Linked DNA regions of Homo sapiens: region 2 is linked to region 1. A link means that fine-mapping ties the variant in region 1 to the expression of a gene that starts in the linked region. Tissue or cell type: sigmoid colon. Region 1 holds a variant in brackets; the other region holds the start of a gene. All regions are shown on one strand. Distances are from middle to middle.

Evidence for each region. PIP is the estimated chance that this variant, and not a neighbour inherited with it, causes the effect.
Region 2: ARHGAP29 starts here. The variant in region 1 is fine-mapped to the expression of ARHGAP29 in sigmoid colon (GTEx, PIP above 0.99).

The regions. Positions count from the first base shown.
Region 1 is chr1:94,068,432-94,071,116 of GRCh38, reverse strand. All of the region lies in intron 11 of ABCA4 (ATP binding cassette subfamily A member 4), which reads left to right. It overlaps LOC124904222 (a long non-coding RNA gene), which reads right to left and starts at 758. Exons shown (of 2, transcript XR_007066231.1): 1 at 557-758. RefSeq lists enhancers at 1,304-1,861, 2,052-2,685. The variant T/C (reference allele first, on the strand shown) is at 1,499.
Region 2 is chr1:94,236,464-94,239,148 of GRCh38, reverse strand. It overlaps ARHGAP29 (Rho GTPase activating protein 29), which reads left to right and starts at 1,565. Exons shown (of 23, transcript NM_004815.4): 1 at 1,565-1,734. RefSeq lists silencers at 1,362-1,591, 1,602-1,841.

The DNA of each region.
Region 1 (2,685 bases):
CAGATTGTACAAATCCAATTCAAAACATCATAAATCCTCTAAGCACTGTCAATTCTTCCTCCAAATTATCTCTGAAATTCCTCCTTCTTTCCCATTTATGGCCTCCATTTACAGAAGCGTGTACTGTCTCTCTTAGCTGTTTGCCAGGCCGCCAGTCTCTTGCTGTTCAGCTCTCAACTGCTTCCAGCAAGATCTTTCTAAAATCCCAGGCTTGCCAAGACTTAGCGCCCACAGCTCCACAGTGACTCCTCATTGCTGTTAAGGTAAAGGCCTTCCCAGTCTAGCCCTTCATGCTTCTTCCATGTTCTATGGGACTGCCCCAGGCTTCCCACCTGGTACCACTGAGCCTTTCCATCCTTCCCCCACTCGACTGCCAGGTCAACACCCACACCCACGCTTCAGGACTCAGGTCCTATGTTTCGGGCCTTCTTCTGTGCACCATTCCCTTCCCTGTAGCCCTTGATCATGATTTGTTTATACGCCTCCGCACCTTCATGGCCCTGAACCCCTCAAGGGCCGAAACTGCCTTACTTTTCTTTTTGACTTCCCAACTTACCTTAGTGGAGCTGTAGTCACATAGAATAGACGCTCATAAATGCTTCTCTGGGCTGTAAAGGTTGAATTTTCCAGCTAAGCAAGGAAGAAAGACAATTTCAGGCAGGAGGAAGGGCATAAGCAAAGTGCAGAGATGTGAAGCTCAAGAGAAATGGATGGGCTGGGCAGAGGTGTGGCTGCAGCATCAGGGGAGAAGAAGTAGTGCCTGGAGTCAGCAGGCACGGCTTGCAAAAGCTTCACCTATAGGTGAAAGGACACCATCTCTTGCACCAATAGGCTCTGTGATTGGAGGCAACTTTGCTGTTTTACTGCCAGAAAACTGAGGATGATAACCCAAACTGCAGTTCAAGTGGCATTCACTGGTGTGGCTGAAATGGGTGTTTGTGGCCAGAATGTGGTCTGATTGGTCAGTGCCCAGCTCTGTTGATTAGCAGATGTTTTGAATATAGTAGCATCCATGTGCCCAAGTTGTTGGGATGATTCAACAAGAAACTTTAAGAGCTCAAGTGCCCTGCAGTTGTCAGCCAGGTGATTCTCTTCCTTTGGACCCAGTTAGACGCAGGCATTACCTCGTGGCTTTGCCCCAGTGTGAATCTTTGTCCTCCAACTTGATCTTTTTATTTGTTTCATTATTGTATTTAAGTTGTTTATTTTAGAGACAGACATTTTTTAACAGCTGTGCATTTCCTGTCCCTTTGTTTTCCAGTCGTCATGTGTTTCCTTACTCTCTGTGGGTGAACGTTTCAGATGTCTGTTTGCGGTGCCCAGCGTGCAAGATAAAATTTATTGCAGTGCCTTCGGCCTCTAACTCACCATTCCAACCAATTCAGATAGCCCAAGGCTGTTTTATCCAGTGGATTTTTCCATGTAGTGGGAAATAAATCTTGAATGTTACTGTTTAGATTAGCCAGGAAACTCATTCTGGGATGTTTGCCCACATCCA[T/C]TGGCATTTCTCAAAAGGAACCCCAGGTGTCTACCTTGACACCAGCAGGGCCACTTGAGCCCTCCGCTGGCATTCATCGCCCGCTTTGTTCTCAGCCTGAGTTTAGGAGTTACAGATGTGAGAGGCGGGATTATACAGCCAACATCTCTAAGCGGGCAGTGGCTCCCTTACCCTCGAAGACCTCACTCCTAGCACGTCCTGGATGTATTCGTCAAAATATGTCCTCTTATGCCACGTCAGCACAGGGTTGCTCCCCACTTTGATCATCAAGTTTAAACAAAAGGAAAGATTTTCTTTCTTTCTCTGCCTCTACTGGACATCATTTCCCACCTAACAGATAATTTAATGTATCTGTTACTGAATGTGTTTGAATTACAGACAGAGAGGTCACAGTTAAAGAAGGAAGCCTGCTGCTACTGCAGCTTGTCCTCCCAAGGAGGTGTTTGATTTAGCTGTGTAAACAAATGACTGCATTCTCCAGAGGTCCTGAACACAGCTGCCTGCGCTGGAGAGGGCTCAAACCTCTTCCGCCAGGGTGAACTCTGCTTCCTGGTGAGTGCCAGCAAAACAACCAACAAAGAGCTGTAGGACTTGTGTGGACTTCAAATGGTGGTGGTCCTGCCACTTGGGCTCAGCCACAGCAGTTAGGAAACTAAAGGGGAGGAGGAAAGCCCTTTCCTTGCTTTATTGTCATTGGCTGTCATAGGGCATTACAATGGTTCTCTTTGAGATTCTGAGCTCCGGCTATAACATTTGCCCAGAATCTGCCTCTGAGGCCTTAAGACACTGTGTTTTTATTCAGCAAAGATGCCCTTTGACTCCTTTTCCCACTAGTGGTGCTAGGTTTGAGCACCTTACACTGGCCCCTTACAATAGCCAGTTCTTGTCTACCTACATTCTTCCCTAACATTCATGATTGCATAGTTACTCTTAGTGTAGAAGCAGACAGCTTTTACACATAGACTCCATGGCCGTAGCCTCATAGAACCTACTATATTCTAACTTGCAAGCTAATCAGACCAAATATATCAAAATCAAAAACCTCTGCTGAGAGTTTATTCATTCATCTCTGTCTCCCAAACGTACTTATGTACATACGTGCACTAATATACATGTCCATTAGCCAAGATTTTGATTTCAGGGATCAAAGCAAGTACCAATAGGGAATGAGGTCACTTGCTGCATGG
Region 2 (2,685 bases), 170 kb before region 1:
AGAGTCCTTGGCGCATTTTTCTTTTTCAGCACGATTAGAAGGAATTTTGGTTTTTGAGGTTTCCTATTTGTGGCAGGACCTTGTTACTATTATTTTGGGGATTTGAGGGGAAAATCTGTGTAAGTTGAGTCCAAAAAATCCAGTATGGTGCCAAAGTAACCAAGGAGCTGAGTTTTCTTATTTATCTTTTCTAAGTAGCACCTGAGGAGCCAAATTTGTTGTATTTTCTTAGCATTGTTTTTCCTGTAAGGGTTCAAAGATATGTCTATGTAAGATGTCCCTCTTCTCTTTCTTTGTCAATGAGTTTTTCTCTTGCCCCGCTACCCTACTTTTGGTTCTGTCATGCTCACTTACTTTTCTGTTTGTTAAGTGGGTAGTCTCTCCTTTTATTTTTCTTCCTTATTTTCTCTTTTTGCCTTCACTTATTTCTGCCTTCCTTGGTTTTCTTCCCTTTTCCTGTGTCTGCACCTCATTTTCTTTCCAGTTTTCCTCAGCACATTCTCCTGTGTCTTTTTCTGTTTCTCCCGTGTGTGGTCATTTTTCTCGCAGACCCCAGCGCTACCCACAGTCTCCCTCCCTGTGTTTTTTCCTCTGTTTCTCTATGAGTTCTTTCTGAATGTTCCAGCACTGAGGTAAGTGCCATCGCTTGTTCCAGCGAGTGGTGTGATATAGGGACTATGTGCTTTCTAGCCCTGCTTGCTATAATTATTCCATCTTTCTCAGACTTTTTTTTTTCTTCTCATTATGAAGTGAGTTTGAAAGTGCAGCTAAGAAAGAAAGGACCGGGCACAGTGGCTCATGCTTGTAATCCCAGTACTTTGGGAGGCTGAGGCGGGTGGATCACCTGAGGTCGGGAGGTCGGGAATTCGAGACCAGCTTGGCCAACATAGCGAAACCCTGCCTCTACTAAAAATACTAAAATTAGCTTGGCGTGGTAATGGGTGCCTATAATCGCAGCTACTCAGGTGGCTGAGGTGGGAGAATCAATTGAGCCCGGGAGGCGGAGGTTGCAGTGAGCCGAGATCACGCCATTAGACTCGTCTGGGCGACAGAGCGAGACTCCGTCTCCAAAAAAAAAAAAAAAAAAAAAAAAAATACAGATAGGCCTAAGTGGAAACTATTACCCTCCATAGAGGGCAGAGGGGCAGAGTAGATGGCTGGTTTTGAGGTAGTTCATTCTTCATTCAGACGTGTGGCGCCCTTCCCCAGGCCCTAACCCCTGGAAGAGGGAGGAAAAAGGCGATCCACAGAAGTGTCTCATAAGAAATGTAGCTGCTCATCTGGCCATTAGCCGCATCTAGTCCTCAGGTGACTTTTCTCTGAGTCGCTCTGCCTGTCCCCTGCAAGCCAAAAGGGCAGCCGACGCAGCCCGTGATGCTGGGACAGCGTCCGGCCGCGCGCAACTGACGGTCGCGTTCTGCGCGCGAGCTAGTTGCCTCCCGTACCTGCCGCGGTCGCCGGCCCCGCCCCCGGGAGCGCGGGCCAATGGGCTGGGCTCCAGGGGGCGGGGCTGGCGGGCGGGCGGTGCGGCCGTGGCGGTAGCTGCAGGGGCGGTGGCGGCTGCAGTGGTGGTGGTGCCTGTGGCTGTGGCTGCGGCTGCGGCTGCGGCTGAGATTTGGCCGGGCGTCCGCAGGCCGTGGGGGATGGGGGCAGCGAGCTCCAGCCCTCGGCGGTGGCGGCGGCCGTAGGTGTGGGGCGGGCGTCCGCGTCCGGCACGCGAGATGGAGCGCCGTGGTGAGTGTGAGGAGGTGGCGCTTGCTCCGGCCGCGGCGGTCGTGGCTCCGGGCTGGGGTTGCCCGCGCGAGCGCCCGCGAATTGCCGTCCAGGGTCCGGGAGGCCCGCGGGGCGGCCCCGAGTGGAAGCGGTGGCAGGCTGCGCTAGGGACGGGTGTCCTCGAGCCAGGACTGGAGTCCACGGGAAGGGTCCGGCCGGGGCTAGGGGCGCGCCCGGCGAGGGAGGCGCGGACGAGCTGGGGAGGACGCCAGCGGTGGCCGGGAGCAGACGGTGACGATCGTAATTAAAGTTAGCACACAGCGCGTACAACGGGTCCGCCTGCTGTTCTGAAGCCTTTGCACATTTTAACTCTTTTAATGTTCAGAACACTCCATGATTGTTCGACTCGGTTCACACGGGGAAACCGAGGTTAAAAACCTGCCCAAGCACACAGACTAGTGGTTGGCAGCGTCAGGACCTAAACCCAGGCGCTTTTGCTCCGGAATCCGTGCTCCTGATCACTATGGGTCTGTGTTCTTGCCTGGATTCTATTCCCGCTCCCACCTGCCCTGACTGCAGCCCTCACTCCAGTTGGGCTCTCATTCCTGAGATATTTTAGGATTTCCGTGGTGCATTTTCTCCTGGTCTGTGTTTTTTGGGTTTCGTTGAGAGTTTTCCTCAGTCTCAGAGGTTTGTCCCAGTTCAATTGTGGACGTGTTTTGGGGTTTGACAGTTTTAATTAAAAAAAAAAATTTTTTGGGGGGCGGGTGAGCTGGAGTTGGACGTTTCAAGGTGGAACCCTCGTGACTGACGAGCCTCTTGTCTCTATGTTTATCTTTTTAAAACTTTCTCAGAGGGTATTGGCCCCAAATGTTTTCGGAGGGCAGGATATTACCTGCTAATGGCAGGAGCTGAGCTCTCCTTCCCTTCTCTCCATCTGTCTCTGTGACTGTATCTCTTGTCTATAGTTTA